4 separate regions of the Homo sapiens genome follow, and all the other regions are reported to be linked to region 1. Evidence: microRNA targets listed by miRTarBase, many of them from high-throughput screens and not tested one by one. Region 1 holds a microRNA gene; each other region holds the end of a gene's coding sequence.
Evidence for each region. The annotated mature microRNA hsa-miR-548t-5p reads CAAAAGUGAUCGUGGUUUUUG and lies in region 1 at 2,348-2,368, opposite strand. An mRNA with a match to its seed (bases 2 to 7 or 8) in the 3' UTR can be bound and repressed. Matches are read on the target gene's strand: a 7mer-m8 pairs with bases 2 to 8, a 7mer-A1 pairs with bases 2 to 7 and ends in A, and an 8mer does both.

Region 1 (4,165 bases):
ATTAGCTTCACAGCACTGACCTCTATGGTGATCTTGAATACGAAAGCCTTCATAAAAGAAAGGAGGCTGTTTCCACAGCTTCCTCATTACCTAAGGTATTGGAATGCAGAACATCAATTATCCCCTAAAATATTCCCCAAAACACTTGTCACAAAAACAAGCATTTTTTTTTCAATCTTCAAAACTCAAGATTTCATAGGAGCAATTTGACTGAATCCCTCAGGTACCTAATGTCTCATTTTCTGAAGCTGATGTCAATCTGCTATATCTTTATTCTGGAGAGCACATGCAATTACAAGGGTTATTGCCACAGTTTAAAGGGAAAAACATTTCCCCTGTACCTCCAAATTATCCCACTTTAATTTCAAAGATTTCCCCATGAAATCATCCATATCTTCACATATTGCCAATAATAATTGCGCTATACTTCTGCAGAATGGTTAAAACCAGTGGCTATGGGTCCAAGTACACTTGATTATCTTTTTATATTTTTCAGGTTCTAGAAATATGCATACATTTATATCATCTAGTTCTTTCTTCACAGGACTTTTGTAAACGACTTCTCCCACAATCAGCTGATGAGGTGGGGTGTCTCTAGTTTTACTGGATATGAAACATCCTAGCATCATGACTGCAACTTTTGATCCTCAAGAAGCATTCCTTTTCCTGCATGATTATAAAATTGGACTTTATGGCCGTGGTCTATCGGAGTTTGTTGTATATTTCTTTGAGACCAAGATTGAAGTAAGAAACAGGTGCAATGACTACTTGGAAAGAATTTAAATTACTTCTGTTGAGGAGGAGGAGGAGGAGGGAAGATTAAATCTAAAATTATTAAGTATTCCTGAAAAAAGTCAAAGCTAGTTACCAGGATATTAAATAGATTCAATACAGCATCCAACCATTTAGGAAAGGTGATGCACTTGGGGCCTGAGGATATGATACTATCACATTTACGTGGTCATAAGGACCTTTGAAATTCAGATTAGGTCTGCTTATCAGCAGAGACTATTTCAGCACTAAATCTAATAAATATTCCAATCAGTGCAAAAGACCTCCTGTGTTCCATAGCTCATGTCACTAACTGCAGCAGCTTCTGTTGGGTACACCTTGGCATGATTCCAGCTGCCTTCCCAAGCCCATTTTAGCAGTTAGGTATCTATAAAAGGAGGTGGAAGATAAAGTGGGGAGGGGTGGGAAGGAGCAAGGAAAGATGAATTATGGGCGGAACATATAATAATAACTCGGCCACTTTATTTCTATTCCTTAAATGGAAAAACAAAATTTGATGCTTTTTGGTCTTCACATTTCTAAAAGCCATTATCAGATTTCATTTTTGAAATAAATTAACAGACAAAAAATATTTTGTTTTGTTCTGTGCCTCTGTTGTCTGAGTGCCCCTATAATAAGACATGCTTATCTGACAAACATCAGAGGAGCCATGCCCCTCTGAGAAACATCTTCACTGTTACTGAGATTTGGGTTTATTATAATGGGGTACTGGGCATTTTGCCCACTAACTATATAGTAAATATTTCTGTGATTAACCTGAGCCCCATACTAAATATACAAAAATTCAGTGGCTCCTTATTATTTGTGGATTCTACGTCCACAAATGTGGATTGCAATTGGAGATGCCTGATGGGCATGCACACGAGGATGTTCTGTTTCTTGTTTCTGCTCATAGAGTAAACAAGTGTCCGGGTGCGGTGGCTCACGCCTGTAATCCCAGCACTTTGGGAGGCCAAGAAGGGCGGATCAAGAGGTCAGGAGATTGAGACCATCCTGGCTAACACGGTGAAACCCCATCTCTACTAAAAATACAAAAAAAAAAAAAAATTAGCTGGGCGTGGTGGTGGACGCCTGTAGTCCCAGCTACTCGGGAGGCTGAGGCAGGAGAATGGCGTGAACCTGGGAGGCAGAGCTTGCTGTGAGCCAAGATGGCGCCACGCCTGGGCTACAGAGCGAGACTCCATCTCAAAAAAAAAAAAAAAAAAAAAAAAAAACGAGAGAGAAAACAAGTGTCCTATTTGCAGTTTGTTTGGTGCCACAGATTTTCTCATTTTTGTGCTTTTAGTTGGTAATTTTGCTGTTTAAAACAGCCTCCCGAGAATAATGTCAGTGTGCTACCTGGTATCCTAAGCACAAAGATGCTGTGCTGTGTCCTGTGCAGAAAATCCACGTGAGACAAGCTTTGTTTGGGTGCGAGTTACAGTGCTATTGGCCCTGAGTTCAATGTAAACCCATCAACGTTATAGGTAAAATAAAGTGTCTTTAAATAGATACATGCCTAAAACAAGGTTAGGTTGGTGCAAAAGTAATTGTGGTTTTTGTCATTAAAAAATTGCAAAAACCACGATCACTTTTGCACCACCCTAACATTTTTCTTCACTTCTCTTGACGCAAATTATAGATTCAATCACCCAGCACTTACAAGCAAGCATTTCTTTATCTTAGGTTGACCTTAAGAACTTCTTTGTATTTACTAACTTCCTTTAGGACTCCTCCTCTTTTGTAGTAAGACGGCAGGATGAAATACAATGAAGAGGGTACCATATTTTAAAGATAAGGCTGAATACCACACACCTGGCATGATGAGAGGCCTATACAGAAAAAAGAGCTTCTGAAGCTTCTCTATGCCACACAAGGGATGAAGGTGGCCTCCAACAACTGTGACCTCCAACCGGTGGAGCTCATGTGTGATATGCCTTTTATGTCCTTTAGCACATTTGTTACCCACAATAACTTTACAAGCCAAGTATTATTATCCACAATTGCTAGAAGAGGAAACCAAAGCTCCCTAAATGCTCAATATCATGCTCATCACTCTTTCAGCTCTGTATGGGATTCCCAAAGTGAACCTCATGTGTATTTATGAACTTGGCACTCTCGGATACCATGCAGCACCCCTCATTTTCTGTGAGCTCTGCTTGCTGAGGTGAAGACTCTGCTGCAAAGGGGCCCCTGGTCCTGTGAAGCTGGTCCCCCTGCTGTGCCTATTCTAAGGAATGGCCATTGCTGATGACATTTGCTGGTCTGTGCCCAGGCATGGTTTCCTGGCGCTGCAGAAGCCACTGGCTGGTAATCTGCCTATGGGTGTCCACAAACCCTCAAGTACAGAAATTTGCCATCCTTCAGTTTGACAGGCATTTTAATGGAATGCTCTTTCAGTGTATCTCCCTAGCATTCAGGTACGCGTTTCAGGGGCCAGGCTGGAGGGTGATCTAAGTGACAGGCATGGTACAATGGTAAATTTTGCCCATACCCTCAACACTGATCCTCTACTTCTAGGCCATACTAAGGTGGCTTTTAAAAATTAATATATGATAATAGTACCTATTTATGGGATACATGTGATATATGGATACATGCATATAATGGGTAATGATCAAAGCAGGGTATTTAGGATATGCACCACCTCAAACATTTATCATTTCTTTGTGTTGGGAACATCCCAAATATTCTTTTCTAGCCCTTTTGAAATACACAATACATTGTTGTTAACTATGGTCACCTGCTGTCCTATTGACCATTAGAACTTATTCCTTCCAGCTAACTGTATGTTTATAGCCATTAGCCAACCCCTCTTTATCCCACATCCCAGCCCTCCACACACACACACACACACACACACACACACACACACACACACACACACACACACACACCCTTCCCAGCCTCAGGTAGCCGTCATTATACTCTCTACCTCCATGAGATCAAATTTTTTAGCTTCCACGTGAGTGAGAACATGCAATACTTGTCTTTCGGTGCCTGGCTTATTTTTAACATAATGTCCCCCATGCTCATCCATGTTGCCGAAAATGGCAGGATTTTATTATTTTTATATCTGTTCTCTTATTAATAGTATAACTTCTTACAACTTAGATTTAAGCAGAGGCCCTTCTACATATAATTGGAATTTTATATGTCCACATTTAAAAAGAGTTACCTTGGGATTGATAACATACTTCTTTTGCTCCTAAGTAAAAATTTTTATTACTATAAAATGTTTCACAAATGTATCAAAAATACTACAATTAAAACTACTGCTCTGATCAACACACTTTCGTGCTCTTTTGTCTGGTATAGTGAAAGGTCGGTCCTAGAAGACCTGGATTCATTCTTCTCAGCCACTTAATTTAATCCTGGATGATCACATACTGTT
Region 2 (4,165 bases), not on the chromosome of region 1:
CTCACCACCATGCCCACCTAATTTGTTTTTTTGTGGAGTTGGGGTCTTGCTCTGTTGCCCAGGCCTGATCGTGTACTATTGGCCTCAGGCAATCCCACCTCAGCCCCCGAAAGTGCTGGGATTACAGGCATGAGCCACCATGCCTTGCCAAGAATCTTAACATTTTCTTATCTTGCAATGTCCTAGAAAAATCGTCATCTTAATAATGAATTTTAAAAAGTAATTTTACCTTTCTTTTAAACAGTACTACGACATTTCTGCCAAAAGTAACTACAACTTTGAAAAGCCCTTCCTCTGGCTTGCTAGGAAGCTCATTGGAGACCCTAACTTGGAATTTGTTGCCATGCCTGCTCTCGCCCCACCAGAAGTTGTCATGGACCCAGCTTTGGCAGCACAGTATGAGCACGACTTAGAGGTATTGTGGCCACTTTGCTGTTCAGATTGTTCGGTTTGGCTTGTTTATTCCTGGCAGTTTTGATCTGGAGTGTTAACGTTTTTCCATCTCTTCGTCTAGGTTGCTCAGACAACTGCTCTCCCGGATGAGGATGATGACCTGTGAGAATGAAGCTGGAGCCCAGCGTCAGAAGTCTAGTTTTATAGGCAGCTGTCCTGTGATGTCAGCGGTGCAGCGTGTGTGCCACCTCATTATTATCTAGCTAAGCGGAACATGTGCTTCATCTGTGGGATGCTGAAGGAGATGAGTGGGCTTCGGAGTGAATGTGGCAGTTTAAAAAATAACTTCATTGTTTGGACCTGCATATTTAGCTGTTTTGGAACGCAGTTGATTCCTTGAGTTTCATATATAAGACTGCTGCAGTCACATCACAATATTCAGTGGTGAAATCTTGTTTGTTACTGTCATTCCCATTCCTTTTCGTTTAGAATCAGAATAAAGTTGTATTTCAAATATCTAAGCAAGTGAACTCATCCCTTGTTTATAAATAGCATTTGGAAACCACTAAAGTAGGGAAGTTTTATGCCATGTTAATATTTGAATTGCCTTGCTTTTATCACTTAATTTGAAATCTATTGGGTTAATTTCTCCCTATGTTTATTTTTGTACATTTGAGCCATGTCACACAAACTGATGATGACAGGTCAGCAGTATTCTATTTGGTTAGAAGGGTTACATGGTGTAAATATTAGTGCAGTTAAGCTAAAGCAGTGTTTGCTCCACCTTCATATTGGCTAGGTAGGGTCACCTAGGGAAGCACTTGCTCAAAATCTGTGACCTGTCAGAATAAAAATGTGGTTTGTACATATCAAATAGATATTTTAAGGGTAATATTTTCTTTTATGGCAAAAGTAATCATGTTTTAATGTAGAACCTCAAACAGGATGGAACATCAGTGGATGGCAGGAGGTTGGGAATTCTTGCTGTTAAAAATAATTACAAATTTTGCACTTTTTTGTTTGAATGTTAGATGCTTAGTGTGAAGTTGATACGCAAGGAAAATGGTCCATGTTTACCCACAGTTTTCAGGTACTCCTAGACTTTAAAGATGTCTTGAACATTTAAGTTCTTCAGCAGTTCACACTACACCGTTTTTTTGTTTTTTTTTCCCCCCCGGGAGGGTTTTTTTGTAGGGCAGCACAGCAGAGCAGGACATGGATGAAATACTAGGAATATGCACAGTGGGGCAGTGTGGGGGCTTCTCAGTAATGGAGAACAGTTGGTGAAACTTTTTTTTTTTTTTAACTAAGCATTTAATTTATCTTGCATATTTTCCACATTTAAAAATGAATTAGGTCTATTAGGATAATTAGGAGTTTGATCCCATCAACACTATTCTTGTAGCAGTTAGGAATCTTGAGCTATTTTTTTCTCATACGATTACTATAGTCCAGTTTACCAAAGTTTTCTTTAGATGTCTGATAATCTTGAGATGATTGCTTACCTTAAAAGGTATAGAAAGGATCACTTAAATATATGGAAAAATGAAATAAGGGTGAAGCTGAATAAAGTTCTACTTACTGTATTAACTGGCAACAGTTGAGTTTCTTAAGATCTGAATTGCTGTGTATGTTACGCTGTATTCAGAACCAGTTTCTAACCAGCCTGTGAGATGGGAAGTTTTTTCCCCATAATTGGGATGAAACCTTTCATTCAGGTATTTTGAATTGAAGGTGTATGTGTTGTTTGTAACCTTGTGGAGATTGCAAGTGGTGTTGACATTCTGGATCTTCTATGTAACAGTTGAAATTTGGAAGTGACGTCACTTACCTGTCTAACGTGGTGTGGGAGAGAATTTACAAGTCCTTTATTGAAAGAATAATTGTTGCAAAATATATTGCTTCTACTTTGCCTGGATTTTTTGAATCATCTCTAGTATTTGCTTTAGGAAATGCTGAAGAGTTAGCAGAGATTATTATCTTTTGGGGGGGCGGCGGGGAAGGGGTCAGTTCTCTCCAGATTGTACAAATGGGAAAAGTCTGCTCTCCATTTTTTGAAATCTCGTGTCTAATGGGGGAAGCCTTGAAAGCTTTATATGAAGTTACTGCAAACCAGTAATAGCTTATTAGAGCAAAGTCATTAAGAAAAAGCATAGTTAGTGCATAGGTCTTGTGTGGATATAATGTGAAACTGGTAAATTAGTAGTTTCAATTTGTGTGAGAGCCAGTTTTTTTAAAAAACCACATAGAATGGGATTTTTTAAAAAATTGTATCAATCATAAAATGTCTAGAAAAGATGAGACTCCAAAATAGCCTCCAAAGAGGACTGGTTTCCTGGCTAACTGTTCACCTGAAGGAACTCAAGTACAGAGAATTTCTGGTTTCTTTTGCAAAAACAGATCAGAAACACAAAAAATTACCTGCTGAGCAAATGGGATGAGGGTTGGATTCAGCTTTTCTTGCCAGCAAACTGACGGACATCGTGTATGATGTTTTCTGCCACTCGGGCTGTACAGGGCTATCCTGCCCAGCAAGATTACGTGAGACTAAGCTTTCCCTGTATGAGGCAGACCCTGTACTAGGACAGCACCTATCCTAACTCCTTGCAGCACCTTTTACCCTTGAAGCCGAGGGCATGGTGGGGAGAAACGGCACCTAACCATGGAAACCTTATCTTTAGTTAAGGGGTCAGAGTCCTATTCAAAAAACATCTGATGCATCTCGCCTGCTCCACATTTCCTACAAGGTCTTGCAGGCTCTGGTCACACGTGCATCTTGAGATCTGTGTGCATGCTGCTTTCCAGAACTCCCCCTTCCCTCTCCTGAAGTCGGTCCTACCAGTTAATGCTTTAGTTCCTTTAGAGTTCACTCTGCTTTTTACCTTGAGTTGGATGTCCGACTACAGACATTACAAGATTGCCTTCAGCCCTAGTCAGCATGGCAAATTTGCGATAGCGACTTTCCCTTCCTAGACTAATTGCCACGAGGGCGAGGGCCATGTCGCTGCTCTCTCATGTCCCTAGTGTTTATTAAATGTTCTATGGGAACCTCGAGGAACAGAGAACTTGGGGGTTAGAGATAGGGTGGGATTGATGGAGGTGGGTGGAGAGGAGCCGGGAGAACTTTATACACCATTAGGTCTGACTATTCTGAAGTCATGCTGGTATTTTCTTCCTGAGGTTTGTAGCCTACACTATCTTTTTAATTTTATTTATTTATTTATTTAATTTATTTATTTATTTTTTAGAGTCTCGCTCTGTCTCCCAGGCTGGAGTGCAGTGGCGCCGTCTCGGCTCACTGCAACCTCTGCCTCCCGGGTTCAAGCGGTTCTCATGCCTCAGCCTCCTGGGTAGCTGGGACAGGCATGCGCATACACTGTCTTTTATCCATTTATTCTGGCTTGTTTCTTTGGTGCACAGGAGTAGAGAGAGCCAGTGTGGACAGTCGGGAAGCTTGCGGGATGGACCTCAGTTAAAATGGTGCCATCAGCAGGTGTTGGGGCTGTGATGCTTGAAGTTTAGTTACAGGCGTTGGAAGAGGCACCTTGGATTTAGTTGGGTTTCAGTTCCCCTCCTTGAAGAAGCAAAACAGAAACCATTCCGTATACCTCAGTCTTCGGTAATGTGGACAGTTGAGTCCTTCTGTCAAGTCAGCTGTGCTCAGAGATACACCGTGCGATGCTGCAGTGGCTTTGCTCATGAAGCCTTCGCCTGGGGAGACAGGCAGTCAGGTTCCTGGGATGAGGCTGAGCGCCACAGTGAGTGTGAGGAC
Region 3 (4,165 bases), not on the chromosome of region 1:
CATCACTTTGTGTTTCACTGAGCGTTTTGAAGTTGGTAGTGAGCATTGGTGCACTTCTGGCTGGCAGTCCCAGCTGCCTTTTCTCTCTATAACTGGAATAGAATGAACCTTCCTCTATCCCTCTCTTTCTTCCCACGGCCTTCAGGTGTTCCCAGAACCTTGCTGTGTCTGTGCCGTGTGGCTGTGAGAAGAGCTCTTGGCAAACACCGGCTTCATCTGATTCCTTCGCTGCCTCTGCCAGACCCCATAAAGAAGTTTCTACTCCATGAGTAGACTCCAAGTGCTGCGGTTGATTCCAGTGAGGGAGAAAGTGATCTGCAGGGAGGTGGACACCGAGCCCTGAGTGCTGTGCTGCTGCTGGTCTCCTGATGGCTGTTGCTGCAGAAGATGTCCTCGTAGACTGTCATTGCTCCTCAGGTGCCTGGGCCGCTGAACAGTCCTTGGGTCATTGTCAGCTGAGAGGCTTATACTAAAGTTATTATTGTTTTTCCCAAGTTCTCTGTTCTGGATTTTCAGTTGCATATTAATGTAACGGGCCATGGGGTATGTACATGTAGGGGCTGAGGTTGGAGGCCTACTAATTTCCCTGTAGGGAAGACTCCCAGCACTTCTGGAACTGTGCTTCTCTTTATTTTTCTACTTCTCAATTTGATGGTTCGATTAAAGCCTTCTAGTATCTCAATGAAAAGGGAGTTTCGTAAGCAAAATAGAGGACAGAAATGCAGTTCATGAACTTGCTGGTTGGTTTTTCCTGCTCCTGGGGTAACACATGCGCTTGTCATACACGCCCCTTCCTTGCCCCTTCAGTATTCTCTCTTTGCGATGGAGGTCTCATAGTGAGTGTCTTCACTCAAGGGTGGTTTCCTGGCTGCACGGCACCTGTTCCAACACCTACTGTGCCTCTCATCAGGTGTCACGATTTTTCTGCCACTTCACCTTAGGGAGCTTCCAGTGATTGATTTTAGGAGGCCCACACCAAACTCCCCAGGAAATGACTGCCTTCCTTGGGACCAAGGACCGTTCCAACAGCATTCACTGCCAGTTCTAATAGGCGAGGAAAATGCCCGAGGCGCTGTCTTCTGTCCCCCACACGTACCAGAAAGTGAAAAATGCAGCGAGTCCTCTGGGTGGTTATGAGCCTCCAGGCGCATGCTGTCCAGTGGACAGAACATCTGGCGGTTGGTTGATTGCTCTCTTTTGTCTTGGTCGCTGCTTCTAGAATCTATGCAGGGGATAGCAGTGAGGTCAGAAGTCTTTCCCGGGAGAGAGATGGCCTGGGTTATCATTGCTGATAGCTTTGGCTGCATGAGTTGGGCTTCCCCTTACCCAGGGCTGCACAGCCAGGTGTGAGGGTCACCGGCAGGTGGGCTGGTGGCTGCAGCCTCAGAGCCCTCCCAGGTTGCTGCTGTTTCCAGTGAATCACATTTCGTCATTTGAAGCCCATGAGGACCATTGTGTGGATCCATGGTGATTCTAGACTTCAGATATATTTAGGAAGGCGCAGATTTCAAATCTGTGTTTGATTTTCTGTAATAAGAGAAATCCAATTTGTAAAACTTGAACAATGATACCGTTTTATTTACTTAGTAGCATCACTGTGTGTCTTAGCAGGCAGGCAGTGTCTGGCCATTATTGCGTTCTACAGCCAGAGGATAGAATTCTATACCCCCAACCCCTTGTGTCACAAATGGGCTCTGTGTGGGTCACCCCAGCTGACCCGTGTATGTGCAGATGCAGTTCCGAAGGGAAGAACAGTCCTCGGGTGATTCAGAGGGGAAAATGCAATCCGGGAGGTGTTTCCTCAGCTGAGGTGACACTGTTAGAAGCTGTGATGGTTGTGTAAATGTGGGCTGTGTGCTGTTCCCGAGGGGAGCTTGGGATTGGGTCCTGCTGAAGCCAGGAGGGTCTTCCCAAGATAGGAGAGGAACCGCAGGTGGTGAGCGGCTGGGGAGGGCCAGGACAGCCGGGGCTGGGTGCTGCAGGGGCTTCAGCCCGGGAGAGGGGGTGGGCGTGTTCTTTGTGGTACCAAAGTGGGACTAGGACAAAAATTGGGCTGTGGCTGGGGCAGGAGCTATAGGGAGTTAAGGAATGATGATACGGAAGTTGGAGCCACCACCGTGGACTGGGCCTTGTCACTGGAGGTCGTAGGCAGTGGCTCATCACCCTGGTAGGGCTGATAGGGGCTTTCAGGGAGGCTGGTTAGCTCCCTGCACTCTGGCTCTTTACTGGCTTACTGTTTAGCTCCTCCCACCTCGAGGCTCTTCTTCCTGCCACCCTTTGGGCTCAGAGGAGGGTGGCTTTTTTCGAGGTGAGCCATGTTGTAGACACATGATACGCTCTGCGTCTGCTCTACTGAGTACTTTCTGCAGGGGCCTGTTAAGGACGAGGCCTCCCCAGCCCTGCCCGGTGCAGGAGGTGGCTCAGTTATTGAACCTTTTGGGAAGCAGCACCTGGGAATGCTGCCTCGTGGGAGTCCCATGCGTGAGTGTGGTGGTGTGACCTTCAGGCTGCACAGAGGCAAGGACCCAGATGTGGCAGCATGGGCGTCATGCTCCTTTGCACAGCCCAGGGCCTGTTTTGGAGGGACCAGGTCACTGCCCCTGGTCTCTCTAGGAGGAGTGGACTGAATGGATCGTTGCAGAGAAGACTCACCCAGACCTGGCCAGGGAATGATGTATCTGGGGAGAGAATGAGCTGGAGGAGGGGGCCTCTCATGGCCCTTCCCTGGCCTGTGGCCCAGCCTGGCTGGCCTGCAGGTGTCTAGGGTCTCAGCTTTTCATTTGCAGAGGACATGTTCAACTTCCTCTCTGTTCAAGCCAGCCTTTGCCAATTTTTTCAGAATCCAAACAATTTGGAGGTTTGGTATCTTGTTTCATAGCTGCCAAATATGAATCTGAAAACAGGGTGGGTAGCTAAGGTCATTCCTCCTGGGTTTTAGTGGCATTGCCTTCCTTCACTAAAGCTCCCTTTTTTTTCTGTTGGCAAGGACAGGTTACAGAATAGGAAGAGTAGCACTTTCCGCCTAAGCACTTTAGGAAATCACCTTTCTAAGCCCTGGGGCGCCCAAGTCCCATGGGACAGGGAAACGTGGTCCTCAGTGAGGCTGCTGCCTGGCTGGCCCGGAGTCCTCCCTAGGAGAGGGGCTCGATGGGCTGGGGGAAGGAGCCTGAAGGTTGCCCCTGGTTGCATCCCAGAAGCATCTGACTGTCACCACTGCCAGTGGCTGTGGAACAGTCCTGGGCCCTGGGCCTTGGCTGCTGTCAACAGATGGGCTGGGCTGGGCTGTGGTGGGGTGGGGGACAACGTTGGTAACTCTGAGAATTCAGCTTTGGAGTCCCGGGTGAGGGGTTTTAGATAAACCCATCAATATCACCCACATTCTGTGACTCTTTGCATCACTCGTGTTATTTATTTATTTATTTATATTCTGCCTTGTTCCAGAAAAGTGTTTAAGGCAACAATGCTTGTTTTTTGGTGTTTTCTTTTGACATTTGAAAATTTAGTACATTGTTAAAATGTACTTGTTAAACAGGTAATTTTAAAGAGAAGGAACAATTGTTTTTAGTAAGTTTTCTTTTTCCTTTTTCAATGAATTGATTCTTCAAATTAAAAGTTCTTGAGAGAAGGAGAGGAAGATACAGCAGACATAGGACTGAGCCAAGGAAGAGTCTGCCTGAGAGAGACGCTTGGCCTGTGCTTTGCTGCCATCCGTGCGGCCTTGGCCACATCCCTATTAACAGAGGCAGCTCCACTTCAGACAGGGACAAGGCTTCCTGCTGTGCCTTTCTGGCAGGGTTTTGTGGGGTCACATGGGAAGCAATGTGTTACGCAAGCAGTCTCCATGTGTGTGTAAACTGCTGTCCTGGTGACTTGTCCCTCTTCTTAGTGGAAATGCATTTGAGATGGTGACAGGGCTGGATGAACGTGTGACCCTGGGAGATCCGGGCTGGACTGTGGACCCCGATGGGCCAGAGTCCTTGTGGCCCACAGCATAGCACTGGGGACAGAGCGCTCTATGCAGGTGAGGCGTATGAGAACAGCATGGTAAATAATTGATGAAGTCACATTTGTTCAACTTAAAGGATTGTTCTTTATTCTGAAGTTATTTTCTTCCTTATTTGGATGATAAAATTTCCTTTTATGTAATGAAGGTAAAAGTAGAGGG
Region 4 (4,165 bases), not on the chromosome of region 1:
ACACTAATTCAACATCAGCAAATACACACTGGTGAGAAGCTCTATGATTGTAAGGAATGTGGGAAATCTTTTACTTCTCATTCAACACTAATTCAACATCAGCCACTTCACACTGGTGAGAAACCTTATCATTGCAAGGAATGTGGGAAATCTTTTACTCTTCGCTCAGCACTAATTCAACATCGGCCAGTTCACACTGGTGAGAAACGCTACAGTTGTAAAGAATGTGGGAAATCTTTTACTTCTCGCTCAACACTAATTGAACATCAGCGAATTCACACTGGTGAGAAACCCTATCATTGTAAGGAATGTGGAAAATCTTTTGCTTTTCGCTCAGCAATAATCCAACATCGGCGAATTCACACTGGTGAGAAACCCTATGATTGTAAGGAATGTGGCAAGGCCTTTAGACGTCGTTCAAAACTTACTCAACATCAACGAATCCATACTGGTGAGAAACCTTATCGATGTCATGAATGTGGAAAAGCCTTTGTCCGTTTCTCAGGACTCACCAAACATCACAGTATTCACACTGGCGAGAAACCCTATGAATGTAAGACATGTGGGAAGTCCTTCAGACAGCGTACACACCTTACTCTACATCAGAGAATTCATACCGGTGACAGACCTTATGAATGTAAAGAATGTGGGAAATCTTTTACTTGCGGCTCAGAACTAATTCGACATCAGCGAACTCACACTGGTGAGAAACCTTATGATTGTAAGGAATGTGGGAAGGCCTTTAGATGTCCTTCACAACTTAGTCAACATAAACGAATCCATACTGGTGAGAAAACTTATCAATGTCCGGAATGTGGGAAAGCCTTTTTCTATGCCTCAGGACTCAGCCGACATCAGAGTGTTCACACTGGCGAGAAACCCTATGAATGTAAGACATGTGGGAAGGCCTTTAAACAGCTTACACAGCTTACTCGACATCAGAGAATTCATGACCTAACATAATTAATGTAGGAAACTGTTCTCATGCCATTTGTCATGGATCATCAGCAGATTCCATATGTGGGTCAAATACAATGGATGTGTATTACTTCATATTCACTTTTTCCAGAATTACGACTTTTTTTTTTTTTTTTGAGACGGAGTCTTGCTCTGTCGCCCAGGCTGGAGTGCAGTGGCGCTATCTCGGCTCACTGCAAGCTCTGCCTCCTGGGTTCATGCCATTCTCCTGCCTCAGCCTCCCTAGTAGCTGGGACTACAGGTACCTGCCACCACGCCTGGCTAATTTTTTTGTTTTTGTATTTTTAGTAGAGACAGGGTTTCACTGTGTTAGCCAGGATGGTCTCGATCTCCTGACCTGGTGATCCACCCACCAAAATTAGGACATTTAATACTGAAAGAAATTGATAATGAATGTAGATGAGTTTTCTATCATGATTCAAAGCTTATTGAAGTTATACAAATTCATATTAGAGAATGTGGTCAATGACAAAAGACAACCATTTACTACCTACGTGACATTAGGCTAGTTATGTAAATTCTCTGTGCCAAAATTACTAATTGATAAAATGTTGATGGCAATAGTTGTTTTTGTGTATTTTTTGTTTGTTTGTTTTGTTTTGAGACAGAGTCTTGCTCTGTTGCCCAGGCTGGAGTGCAGTGGTGCTATCTTGGCTCACTGCAACCTCTGCCTCCTGGGTTCAAGTGATTCTCCTGCCTCTGCCTCCTGAGTAGCTCAGATTACAGGCATGCACCACCATGCTTGGCTAATTTTTGTATTTTTAGTAGAGACGGGGTTTCACTGTGTTGGTCAGGGTGGTCTCAAACTTTTGACCTCGTGATCCCCCTACCTCGGCCTCCCAAAGTGCTGGGATTACAGGTGTGAGCCACCACGCCTGGCTAGTAATAGTTTTTTTATAATAAATAAGTGTGACTATATTTTTCATGTTTGACTACTGACTTTGTTTTAAGCTTCGCCTTCCCTGTCTATTTCCCTGTCTACTTTAGCCCATAACTGCAAAGGTGGCTAAGAAAGTCCTTGCTGGAAAGAAAGCAAGCAAAACTAAAGTCTGTGCGCACCTTCTCCTTTGGATCCAGTGGGCAATTTATATTAGAAATTCCAAGCCGGGCGTGGTGGCTCACGCCTGTAATGCCAGCACTTTCGGAGGCTGAGGTGGGTGGATCACCTGAGGTTAAGAGTTCAAGACCAGCCTGGCCAACATGTTGAAACCCCATCTCTACTAAAAATACAAAATCAGCCAGACATGGTGGCATATGCCTGTAATCCCAGCTATTCAGGAGGCAAGGCTGGAGAATCGCTTGAACCTGGGAGGCGGATGTTGCAGTGAGCCAGTCAGTGGAGCAGTCAGAACACACACAGTGTTTATCAATTAAGTTTGTAGTCAGAACACACACCATGTTTATCAATTAAGTTTGCTGTCTTATATGGACACAGTTTGTGATGCCCTAAAACAAGTAGTGGTGCCTAAGATAATCATAGGCCACCATAACAGATATAACAACAATGAGAAAGTTGAAATATTGTTGGGATCATCCAAATATGACACAGATACAAAGTGAGCACATGCTGGTGAATAAATGGAGCCAATAGACTTGTTCACTGCATGGTTACGTCAGAGGCGTGTAAACCAGAGCAACTTCTTCTTGAATAGGAGCTGTGTAAAGTAACACTGAAACCTACTGGACTGCATTCCTAGACAGATAAGTCATTCTAAGTCACAAGATGAGATATGAGGTCAGCATAAGATACAGGTCATAAAGACCTTGCTGAGAAAACATCTTGCAGTAAAGAAGTCGGCCAAATCCAAGATGGTGACAAGAGTGACCTCTGGTCGTCCTCACTGCTATACTCCCAGCAGCACCATGACACCCAGCTAAGTTTTTATTTTTTATTTCAGTAGAGTTGGAGTCTTGCTTTGTTACCCAGGCTGGTCTTGAATTCCTGTCTTCAAGCAATCTTCCCACCTTATGAATATAAAGAATGGCCCACCTTGTCCTCTCAAAGTGCTGGGATTACAATCATGAGCCACTGCACCTGGGACTTTCTTTTTCTTTTTTCTTTTTTTTTTTTTTGAGATGGAGTTTTGCTCTTGTTGCCCAGGCTGGAGTGCAATGGCACGATCTTGGCTCACTGCAACCTCCGCCTCCCAGGTTCAAGCGATTCTCTTGACTCAGCCTCCTGAGTAACTGGGATTACAGGCATGCTCCACCATGCCCGACTAATTTTTGTATTATTTAGTAGAGACGGGGTTTCTCCATGTTGGTCAGGCTGGTCTCTGAACTCTGGGCAGGACTAATTTAGATAAGGTAGTCAGGAAAGGCATTTCTTACAAGGTGGTATTTGCATGAATGTAGACATATGGTTGCATTTTATTATATGTAAATTACACTTCAATAAAGTTGATGAAAAAAATCTTACCTCATCGTCTATGCACTTCGGATTGTTGTATTTCATTCTATTTAAATTACACTTGCGTTTAAAAAATTTAACACTTCTCTAAAACATATCTGTTGATTTGTACTTTTACTAATATGCTTATGGATGATTTATATACACACACACACACACACATATCTTTTAAGAAGGTTATTTTAAGGTTAATCAATTGAGGCTTTGTCTCAATTGATTTTTTTTGAGACAGTCTCGTTCTGTCGCCCAGGCTGGAGTGCAGTGGCGTGATCTCGACTCACTGCAAGCTCCACCTCCCAGGTTCACGCCATTCTCCTGCCTCAGCCTCCCTAGTAGCTGTGACTACAGGTGCCCGCCACCACGCCTGGCTAATTTTTTGTATTTGTAGTAGAGACGGAATTTCACCATGTTAGCCAGGATGGTCTCAATCTCCTGACCTCATGACCCGCCCACCTCGGCCTCCCAAAGTGCTGGGATTACAGGCGTGAGCCACCCCGCCCGGCTCAATTGATTCTTTTGTCTCAATTTGTAGTCAGTTGAGGTTTGTCTCAATTTATGGAAACAAATCAAATGTTTGTTCTCAAATTCTTACTCTGTCATTTATTATTCTCCATGTTTTTGTAACTGCTTCCTTGGAGATATTTAAACATAAATATATACAGAGAGGGTGAAGATGGAGGAGTGCTTTTTACAGTTCACAGTTGTCTTTTTCATGTGTGACAGGTTTTTGCTGTGTTGCCCAGGCTGGAGTGCAATGCCACAATCTTGGCTCACTGC

Region 2: the mRNA of RAN is a reported target of hsa-miR-548t-5p. Seed matches in the 3' UTR shown: 7mer-m8 at 1,403-1,409.
Region 3: miRTarBase lists ASB1 as a target of hsa-miR-548t-5p. The part of its 3' UTR that is shown has no 7-base or 8-base seed match.
Region 4: miRTarBase lists ZNF850 as a target of hsa-miR-548t-5p. Seed matches in the 3' UTR shown: 7mer-m8 at 1,058-1,064 and 7mer-A1 at 3,499-3,505.

Annotation. Positions count from the first base shown.
Region 1 is chr4:173,266,372-173,270,536 of GRCh38, reverse strand. It overlaps MIR548T (microRNA 548t), which reads right to left and starts at 2,377; the gene lies at 2,304-2,377. The region is part of intron 2 of GALNT7 (polypeptide N-acetylgalactosaminyltransferase 7); the gene reads right to left. It overlaps LOC124900812 (a long non-coding RNA gene), which reads left to right. Exons shown (of 3, transcript XR_007058367.1): 2 at 1-4,165.
Region 2 is chr12:130,875,368-130,879,532 of GRCh38, forward strand. RAN (RAN, member RAS oncogene family) reads left to right here. Exons shown (of 7, transcript NM_006325.5): 6 at 245-415; 7 at 515-2,311. The coding sequence ends at 559. Among named protein-coding and RNA genes, the nearest start is that of RAN, 5.4 kb to the left of the region's middle. RefSeq lists a silencer at 3,037-3,331 and enhancers at 3,844-4,063, 4,084-4,165.
Region 3 is chr2:238,446,239-238,450,403 of GRCh38, forward strand. ASB1 (ankyrin repeat and SOCS box containing 1) reads left to right here. Exons shown (of 5, transcript NM_001040445.3): 5 at 146-4,165. The coding sequence ends at 273. Among named protein-coding and RNA genes, the nearest start is that of ASB1, 21 kb to the left of the region's middle. RefSeq lists an enhancer at 4,044-4,165.
Region 4 is chr19:36,744,565-36,748,729 of GRCh38, reverse strand. ZNF850 (zinc finger protein 850) reads left to right here. Exons shown (of 5, transcript NM_001193552.2): 5 at 1-4,165. The coding sequence ends at 963. Among named protein-coding and RNA genes, the nearest start is that of ZNF850, 26 kb to the left of the region's middle.